Linked DNA regions of Homo sapiens: region 2 is reported to be linked to region 1. The links are microRNA targets in miRTarBase. Many come from high-throughput screens and were not tested one by one. Region 1 holds a microRNA gene; the other region holds the end of a gene's coding sequence.
The links. Region 1 holds the annotated microRNA hsa-miR-107 (AGCAGCAUUGUACAGGGCUAUCA, at 2,804-2,826, opposite strand). A microRNA usually pairs through its seed, bases 2 to 8, with sites in the 3' UTR of a target mRNA and lowers its output. Matches are read on the target gene's strand: a 7mer-m8 pairs with bases 2 to 8, a 7mer-A1 pairs with bases 2 to 7 and ends in A, and an 8mer does both.

Region 2: the mRNA of SNX8 is a reported target of hsa-miR-107. Seed matches in the 3' UTR shown: 7mer-A1 at 742-748, 7mer-A1 at 1,156-1,162 and 7mer-A1 at 3,338-3,344.

Annotation. Positions count from the first base shown.
Region 1 is chr10:89,589,953-89,595,024 of GRCh38, forward strand. MIR107 (microRNA 107) reads right to left here and starts at 2,875; the gene lies at 2,795-2,875. It overlaps PANK1 (pantothenate kinase 1), which reads right to left. Exons shown (of 7, transcript NM_148977.3): 4 at 3,861-4,037; 5 at 3,245-3,368.
Region 2 is chr7:2,250,615-2,255,686 of GRCh38, reverse strand. SNX8 (sorting nexin 8) reads left to right here. Exons shown (of 11, transcript NM_013321.4): 11 at 518-3,917. The coding sequence ends at 631. It overlaps NUDT1 (nudix hydrolase 1), which reads right to left. Exons shown (of 4, transcript NM_002452.4): 4 at 4,542-4,858. The coding sequence ends at 4,686. Among named protein-coding and RNA genes, the nearest start is that of MIR6836, 4.4 kb to the left of the region's middle. RefSeq lists an enhancer at 3,173-3,522.

The DNA.
Region 1 (5,072 bases):
AGAAGGAGTAGAAGTGGCATTAAAACTGGAAGAGCATTCCATGTTTCAAATAAATTCCAGGTGGGTCAAAGATGTTAAAAAAGAAAAAAAAAAAAAGAAAGAAAGAAAAGAAAAAGAGATAGGGAAAAATATGGAAGAATTGGAAAAAAAAGTTGAAGTAGAAAATGCATAATAAAGGAAATCATCTCAAAATAATTGCTACATTTACTTTAAAAAGTTAAATTTATTCGGGGAAAAACATCACCACAAACAAATCCAAACGGGAAGCAATAAATGGAAAATATTATCAGTACATTTCACATAAAATGGATTTGTTAATTAATAAAGAGTTCCATAAATCAACAAGAAAAAAAGTCCAACAACCCAATAGAGTAATGAGTAAATAATATTAATAGTTAATCCCAAAATAAGGTATAATTTTTAACCTATTACATTGAAAAAAATCAAAAAGTTTGATAACTCTGTGGAGAAACTTGTACCGTTATAACCCTGCTTGGTGGGAATGTAAATTAGAACCACCTTTATGGAGGGAACTTTATATCTGTTAATATTACAATCAACATATCCGATGACTCAGCAAGTTCCCTTCTAGGAATTTATCCTATTGATATACTCACATGTAGGCAAAATAATATACATGTGTGTACATATATGTGTGTATACCGTATACAAATACACTGAATTTTTAAATAATAGTAAAAGACTGGAAAAACCTAAATATCATTAGGAAATTGAACAAATCAATAACAGCATATCTATATGTTAAAATGCTATATGGCCATTAAAAATGAAGCAATTTAAAATATACTGATATGATCAATTTCAAGATGCGTTATTACGTCAAAAAGCAAAAGGCAGTATTTTTAGAGATGCTTATTAAAATATATAGGGTAGATTGATATAATATCTGGGATTTGTTTTCTAGTATTTTAGCAAAAAAGAGGGAAGAAGGAGAGAGGACCAGAGGGAGGAGGAAGAAGAAAATATAGAGAAAGCATGTGTTGTGAAGCCTTAATGATTGCAGAATCTGCACTGATGGATTAATGGAGGTTCTTTATACTGTTCTCTCTCCTTTACATATGTTTATGAATTTTCTTAATAAAAAGCTGATAAAGCAAGATATAGAATAGTATATGGAGGGTGAATTGTATAGCATATAATTATATTTCAATAAAGCTATTATTTTGTAAAAAGAATGCTATATAGAGTTTGCTACCTTTGGAAAGATAAATGTATCCTACATTACATACAATATAAACAAAGATATATTGTAATACGTACAATAAAAACAAACAAAAAAACCCTAAAAAAAATGGCAGCCTCTACTGAGGTTAACACTGAGAGACAGAAGTGGAAATGGTGACTCACTTCCTTGTGTATCCTTCTAATGTCTTAGAAGTCTGTATTATGTGTTTGTATTATCTATCCAAAAATTTGAATCAGAAAATTTATAACTGATGGGGAAGCATTTCACAGCATCTCAAGAATCACAGCAAAAATGTTTTAGATTTGGTAAACGTGGTGTCCCTCAATGAAATGGCTGCAATCAAAGGTTCTCAAATCAGTGACTCCAGAGAGCAAAGCAAGGACTGAGGGACTTGGTGGCTGCTCTCATGGGAAATGCAACACTGCCAGTCACTGGTGCGGCCACTGGGAGTCTGCACTGACTGGACACCCTCTGGTAGAGCCTTGGCCCCAAGGCGACTGGTGATTCCCTTCACTCATTCAGCCCCACAGAAACATATAAAATAGTTGCTCAAACCAGTGTATAACATGGCTACATTTTCAAATTGGCACTCGCTCTACTCCACCAATCAACAATATTGAAATTGAAATCAAAAGTGAAAAGTAAAGTCAGTTGCTCTCTCCCAAAGGGATTCTGATGCCTGTGAAAAGACCTGCTGACCTGCTGGCTCACTCCAGCAAAAAGCACAAGAAGCCAGCTCTGCGGAAAGTAGGGGAAAGGGCATCTATTGCTCTGTGGGGCAAGGGTTGTTACCAGCTGACCTTTGAGAGCCCATGAGTACAGCCAACTACACACATATTGGTCTTGGGGCTTGTTTCATTACTTGGAAAAATTCCCTTTAAAGGTTAATGTCAAGAAATAAACTCTGTTACATTGAGTCCCATGACTCAAGTGGACTTTGAAAAAACATCTCTGGAATGCTCTTTTCTCTGAGTATCAGCCTCCCATTTAAACTCCGTCTGAACTGAGGGCTTCCAAAAAGGTATATCGCTGATCTGCAGGCCAGTAACATACTCTGTTCAGTGTTATGCAAGGAGAGTATGTTTTTTGTCAACCCAGAACTCAAAGGCAGGGCTAACACCCATGTATCATAAAGACTGCCTCATACACTAACATTCAACTATTCAACTGAGAGGGGGCTCAAGGGGCTTTCTGAGTACCTATAATGTTCTATTTCTTGATCTGGGTGATGGCTATACAGGGTTGCTTGTGTGTGTAAATTAAACTGTAAGCTTATAATTTGAGCCTTCTTCTGTATGTATGTCACCTCTATTAAAAGCTGTATTTATAAAAACTCCATTACAGATCTACTGTGGTTCTTTAATACTCTCCTATGACCTGTTCCATGCCTCAACTCCTCTTTCCTGTCTTTCTAATATACCTCAGTGTGAAGAGTTCTACTTTATACACCTTGTATTTCAGAAAAGGTTCAATTTTTTCCAAACGAATCTTGCAATGCTTCAAAACATGTTAATACAACTTTGTATGTCACCAGCTCCACCCCTTTTTGTGCCTGGGACTCTGGCTGGCCTTGGCTGTAGCAAGCTCTCTGTGCTTTGATAGCCCTGTACAATGCTGCTTGAACTCCATGCCACAAGGCAACACTGTAAAGAAGCTGAAAGCAGAGAGAATATCGAATATTGCAAGTCGAGCATTTTACCTGCAGTTATGTGCAAGGATGCTCAGACCTTTTCCTCACATTTCAGTGGACACATGGCAATAATGATGGTTAGAGAGACTATGACATGGGTTGTAATTGTATCCTGTTTCCACAGGTGAATGGTTTATCATTCATTATCATCCAGTGCCTTCTTAAAAATAAAGCATATATTCCTCCCCCTCCCCCAACACACACCCCTCCTGTTCTGTAAAGTGTGACTAGAGTAAAGGGAAGCTTTCCTAAGGATATGTAGTTGTGTAAGAGTCAACAGGTGTTGCACTGCCAAGATGATGTATATGAATGACACACAGCTTTCACCGGGTTGAGTAAGGCCTTACCTCATTCAACGCGCACATCCGAGCAATGGAGCCAATGTTGTTGGTGATGGTGACCAATGTGGCCCGGGCGAGGTCTTCCTTGCTGATGGAATCTCGCTTTTCTTTACTCATCATGTTGCCAAAGCTATGTTGGAAATATCAGCGAGAGTGTTCAAAATCGTCCTCAGGCAGGGCCCATCCTTCCACCAAAGTATTGTGGAAGGCTCTACGAGTAACTGTTCAAACTCAAGTGATCCAATTTTGCTACTATGGTTTATAAGCAGACAGAATTATAGTATGCATGGCTGACCGCCCTTTTCTTAATAGGGACAAAGTAGCATGTCCATTAATGGGGGGGGAAAATTAATGCCTCTAGATATCTGGACAAGAATGGAACAGGTGAAACTATTGCAGTTTTCTAGAACCTTCTTTCAAAGTTGCCTTATTTTAAGAACAAGCATCAAGAGCTAAACATCTCAGTGCTTCATCAAGGGCAGGAGATCAAGTCTGAGCTCTGATACAACAGGTATCTGCACCAGGCTGGTGGACTGACATTTTAAAACAACTTAGTGAATGGCCAGGGTGGAGAGGCTGCCTTGTGTTTAATCACTACTGCTCCTAGCTACTTAATCTCTACCTTGATGCTACAGCAGATCCTTGAAGGCCAAATCGTTCATAGTCTCCTCCGTAAATGTCCTTCACCAGTTTATCAACATTGGTGCTGTCGCCTTTAGCTGCCATTTCCAGAGCTTCTTCAAAGGTCTCACAACCAGTCAGCAAGCAACATAGGCCTAGGAATGTTCCACCTCCAAGACTGAAGGAATAATAAGGTTTATTTTTAAATTTTACTTTAAGATATGCCCATCCAAGTCCCCAACTACGTCAAGACTATTAATATGGGTGAATAAAAGCAGACGAACAAAGGGGCACTTGAATTAAAGTGCTAGGGTGCAACAGAGCTTTAGGGTAGACTGGATATGAAAAGAGGGCAGAGACTAAAAATAAACATCAAGGAAAATTTGCCCCTAAATTTGAGAACAAAACCAAAGAAAGACTCTCACTGATTTCTGTTGTGAGACCTTCAACTAGCCACTAACCTGAGTGCTTTGTTCAGCCTTCCCACCTATGAAATGGGGCCAAATCATGATCTCTTCTATTTGGGTGGTCTGAAAGCAGCAAATAACCAAGAAATAACTCCTATTAAAAAACCATATGCAGCTGAATATAAATACCTAGAAAAAGAATTTGTGTGTACATAAAGCATAGTTCAAAGCTATGAAGCCAAACCCTCTGATGACAAAACTGACCCAGGATTGTGCCAGGAGTGGCCTGTCTTAAAAGCTGTGTTTTACCTGACCTTGCTTCTCTAGCAGAGATAATCTCATTTAGCCTCCTTGAATATTTCTAGAAAGGAACCACTGATCTGATACTGAATTTTTTCCTAGTAGACTCTCCAGAAGGTTTTTAGTATATTACTTACCACTCCATAGTAAAAAACAGTAACAAAGGTCATAAAGTGGTTCCAATGGTTGAACTACATTTAAAAAGCTTTGACTTGTTTAGAGGGAAAGTTCCTCTAAAACAGCCTAGACAAAATTAGAAAGTAATTACAGTAGCCAAGAATGAACTCAATTGTGTATTAATATCAAAGTTACCTAATGGAAAGAAAAGCAGATTCAGAGTAAAGTATCGCCAGTGAACTCCCAGCAGGAAAAGGAGTATTGATTCCTAAAGCTAATGGACATAGGTTTTCCTATTTCTTTACCATGTAGAAGAGTAAATGAAGAAGAGCTGCTCACATCCATCTGTTCTGAAGCCCCAAAGAGCTACTAGCTTTGGAAATTCAATT
Region 2 (5,072 bases), not on the chromosome of region 1:
CACCCAAGCTGGAGTGCAGTGGTGCAATCACAGCTCACTGCAGCCTCAACCTCCCGAGTAGCTGGGACCACAGGCAGGTGCCACCACATCCGACTCATATTTCTGATTTTCTGTGGAGACAGGGTGTCCGTGTGTTGCCCAGGCTGGCCTTGGTGTTTGACCTGCCAAGGCTTCCATGAGGCCAGTGCCCGCACGGCAGCTAGAGCATGTACTGGCAGTGACGCGATAGTAACGTTTCTCACGATTCCACGGCAGGCAGATTTGCAGCCCTTTGGTCCTGGGTGCAGGGATCGAAGCGTGGGTGTCTGTGACCACAGGTCACATGTCGCTGGTCCACTCCTCATTTGGGCTTCCTCTGTGCAGGATGGGCAGCACTGGTTCTGCCAGAGGTTTGAGGAGCTGGCGCACCTGAGGGCCCCTCCCTCCCTGTCACTGGCAGGCGAAGGAACTGGGATCAGAGCGTGAGGAGGAGCCCCGGCCCCGCCTGCTGATCTTGTTCTCTTCGCTTCCCTTTCAGATGAGCAAGGTGTGGAACGACCTGAGGCCCAAGCTCAGCTGCCTCTTTGCGGGACCACACAGCACCCTGACCCCACCGTGCTCCCCGCCGGAGGACGGCCTGTGTCCTCACTAGCGCCTGAGGCTGAGGTGGTGCTCCCTGCGGCCGCACTAAAACCTCTTTCCAAACGGTGTGTCCCGGTGTAATTCCCTTTGGACGGCAGCTCCCCTCCCCGCCACGCCCCGTGCTGCAGCTGGAGCAGAGGAGCTCACGCCTGCGGGTCGGGAGGCGCATCCGTGGACCATGGGGGCAGCTGGGCCACACTGTCCTTCGCCCTGTGGCCTGCTAGCCTGGTCGAGAGAGGTGGTGGGGTTCTCTGGAATGGTTTCCTCCTGACACCCAGAGCTGTGCGGGGAGGCAGGGATCTCTCATCTCACAGAGATTGTGCCTGGGGGAGCGTGGAGGCAGGGCCTCCAGGTGCTGGAACAGTCGGGAGGGGCAGCATCATGGTGCTCGGTCAGCCGAGGAGAGAGGGCAGGGCTGCCCTGCAGCCCAGGCATGGGACTGACCACGGACAGCGAGGGGACAGCCAGTGGTGCTGAGGCTGGGAGGGAGGGCCATTGGGCGTGGGGCACGCACGGTGAATTTTCTAGGGAAATTGCTGCAGTCAACACCTGGAGCCCTGGTCTGGGAGTGGCCTGTGGGGTCCAGTGGCCTCATGCCCTGTGCCCATATGATGACCCCATGTGTGCCTGTGTCCACACCATGACCCTGTGTGTGCCCAGGCCTGGAAGACAAAGGCGTGACGGAGAGCTGGGGCTCTGAGAGTGGGCGCTACAGCAGCTGTGTTCTCGTCCCCTGGACTCCCTTGATTTCTGGTGGCCAGTGTTGGGGTCTGCACCGTGTGGCACTGAGGCTGGATGGGCTGGCAGAGGACAGGTGGGGGCGTGGGGGGGCGTGTTCCATTCCAGCTGAGGCTTTAGAGGAGGGACAGCCCCCTTTTAAGTGGATTTCCTTCTCTGAGGCACCTAGAGCCCTCCTCCCAGCCTCCCGTCACGCACTTGCCGGCCCAGCCACCTGCTCACAGAGGGAACCAGTGGTCTTTCAGGCCCCTTCCCTGCTCTGGATGAAGAAGGCCATTCTCCTGAGCTCTGTGGGGCTGGACTGTCCGCCTCAGGCCTGGGTCTGCTTCTGCCCGAACCCCTTTTGTGGAAGGTACATGGGAGCCCAGTGGACCCCTGCACTTCTCCGGAGCCTGACGCCCCTCCCTGGCCGGGGAGGGGTGCTGGAAGAGGCCCGCCGGGCTCCAGGGTTTCCGAGGTCCCTCCGCTCCGCAGATGCTCACTGGCCTCTGGGGCGTTCACTCCTCTCACGGAGGGTGCTTCCCTTCCGCCTGTACCTACGGGCAGCTCACGGCCGTGGGATGGAGAGGGGACTCCTGTGTGTGCCCCGCAGGCAGGTGATCCATCGTCCACTGCGAGCCGGCCAGAGGGAACGGCCGTGCCTTCTGGCCCCGTGGGCTGTGCTGACTCGGTGGCTGTGGGGCTCGGGCCCAGCCTGCCCTGCCCTGTGGGTTCTGCTGCTGCCTTCCTGCTGTGAGGTGGGCTGCTTCCTTCTGGCCAGATGAGCAGAGGGCAGCGTTCCCTTTGGAGCCCGATGGGTGGGCTGTCCCGTGAGTCCCTAGTCCACCCGAGTCTTGGGCTGCGCTGCCTTCTGACGCCCCTCTGCAGAGACAGGTTCTCAGTTGCCATGAATGGCACCATGACACCCGAGCCATGAAGCGTGACCCCGTGTGGGCAGAAGGCTGCAAGGCCTCTCCGTCCACCCCGCACCTTCCTGGGGCCTGTCCAGCTGCAGGACCATAGAGGCTGTGGGGAGTCGTGGAGGGCATCAGGTGCTGGGGCCTCTGTGTCTCCAGAGTAGGCAAGGCACGCGCTCCTGACAGCCCCCAAGGATTGAGCAAGACTTCAGAATGAGCTTTTCTGAAGGAGCTTTCCTGGCAGGGACTCCGGGGTCAGTGAGTGTATGAGAGGCCACATACCTGGCGGCATCTCCCTGTGTTGGAAACTTCAAGAGCAGGGTCTCAGGGTCCTCATGTCCAGAGGCTGAGGATGGAGGTGGAAGGCTGGAGGGCAGGGGTGAGGAGGGAGCAGGAGGGCAGGAGTTGGGGGAGCAGGAGGGCAGGGGTCAGGAGAACAGGAGAACAGGGGTAAGGGAGGGCAGGGGTGAGGGGGAGCAGAAGAGGGATGAGGGGGAGCAGGAGGGCAGGCGTTGGGACAGGAGGGCAGGGGTGAGAGAGCAAGGGGGCAGGGGTGAGAGAGCAGGAGAGCAGGGGTGAGGAGAGCAGGAGAGTAGGGGTGATGGGGAATAGGAGGGCAGGGGTGAGGAGGGAGCAGGAGAACGGGTAAGGGAGGGCAGGGGTGAGGGGGAGCAGGAGGGCAGGGGTGAGGAGAGAGCAAGAGGGCAGGGGTGAGGAGAGCAAGAGGGCAGGGGTGGGAAGGCAGGAGGGAGGTGGGGGGGCAGGAAGGCAGGGGTGGGAGGGTCAGGAGGGCAGGGTGAAGGGGGGGCTGGAGGGCAGCGGTGACGAGGGCAGCCTGTCTCCCACGTGTGGTGGCTGCTTCCTGTGTGCCCTGGGGTTGGCTCTGTGGAGGGGTGGGCACTGGCTTTGGAACACCTCCCTCCCCTTCCTCCTCTGCCACCCAGTGCCTTCTAAAGGGCAGCAGAAAGAGGCCTGCTAGGCAGGGGTGGCGGAGGCCACCTTCCTTCTCACAAATACTTCTTGGCCCTGGCCCTGTGCTGCCCGGGCAGGTCCCCAGGCTCAGGGGCTGAGAGGCTGCTTACTGCTGCAGGTGGAGGCCCCATGCCGGAGGGAGAGCGGGGTTCCCCCCATGCCTCTCCAGCCCTCCTGCTGCCCACGGCCCAAGCCCAAGCTTGTGCCGGTCATTACGGCCTTGCCTAGCTGGCAGGGACAGCTGCGTGTGATGCTGGTGGAGATGCCAGATGCCGCCTGCCCTGTGAGGACGGCTGGCGGGGCCGTGGGAGGGGGGTTGTGGGCTGGCGGGGCTGTGGGAAGGGGGCTGCCGATCATGGTGAAAGGGGACATTTTCATTGGGTCCTCGTGGTCCGTGTCCTGGGTACTCGGGGTCACCGTGCAGACAGCTGCCCTTTGTCTGCCGGACACAGTGCAGGCAGGGGAGACAGGTTTAGGGCTCTGACATGGGGCACAGGGACTCCGAGCCAAGGGATGTCAGGGCAGCTCTGTGCATCTGAGGCCTTTGCCCTTGCTTTGCGGGTCAGTTCATGTCCAAAGCACTTTAGGAGGCTGCAGGGATCAATACCCAATATACCCAACAACTGGAATTGTTTACACATGACCTACATTTTGGACGGTTTATCAATAAACATGTGTGAACAACTGTTATTAAACGTGTATGAAAGTTGGGCAGGGGAGGGGACTAGCCTATGAGGCGTTCAACCTGGGTTTTAGCCCAGAGCCCTTGGCCGAGCCTCAGCTTCCCACACTGTGCAGGGGGGTTTTAAGAGGACACATCCCCAGCTTGTGGCACTGAGCATGTGTGTCTCTGCCCTGGGCCAGCTGCCCACCTCGGGGACAGAGTCTCCATCCTCTCCCACCTCTGTGCAGCAGTGCGGGCTGAAGCCCAGCACATCTGGTAGCTTCCTGTGGACGGGACCTGGCAGGCTGTGCTGGTGTCTGGAGAAGAACGTTTGAAAGGTTAGAGACCGGCCGGGTGCAGTGGCTCACGCCTGGAATCCCAGCACTTTGGGAGGCTGAGGCAGGTGGATCACCTGAGGTCAGGAGTTCAAGACCAGCCTGGTCAACATGGTGAAACCCCATCTCTACTAAACAGACAAATATTAGTTGGGTGTGGCAATGTGCGCCTGTAATCCCACCTCTTCGGGAGGCTGAGATGGGAGGATCGCTTGAACCTGGGAGGCGGAGGTTGACGTGAGCCGAGATCGTGCCATTGCACTCCAGCCTGGGCAACAGAGAGAGACTCCATCTCCAAAAAAAAAAAAAAAAAACCACCGCTAGATAGCTTTATTTTCCCTTCCATCCAGTTAATTCCAGATGAAACCCGGCTCTGCGCCACTCAATGCCCCCAGGTGAAGATGGTTTGCGGCTGTTCAGCAGCCACGTCTCCTGCCCAGGGGCTGCCCTGGGCTCCCGCTAGACCGTGTCCACCTCGCGGAGTGTGTAGTCCAGGATGGTGTCCTGACCCTGGAACTTGAAGTACCCGTGGAATTTCTTCTTCTGAAGCAGGAGTGGAAACCAGTAGCTGTCGTCGGGCCACATGTCCTTGAAGGGGATCTGATCCAGCTGGAACCAGCATGGGCGCATTTCTGTACCAATGGGGGAAGAGGAGGCACTGAGGTGCAACCCAAACTTCATGCTTAAAAAACATGTTTTTTTTGGCCGGGCGCGGTGGCTCACGCCTGTAATCCCAGCACTTTGGGAGGCCGAGGCGGGAGGATCACGAGGTCAGGAGATCGAGACCATCCTGGCTAACACGGTGAAACCCCGTCTCTACTAAAAATACAAAAAAATTAGCCGGGC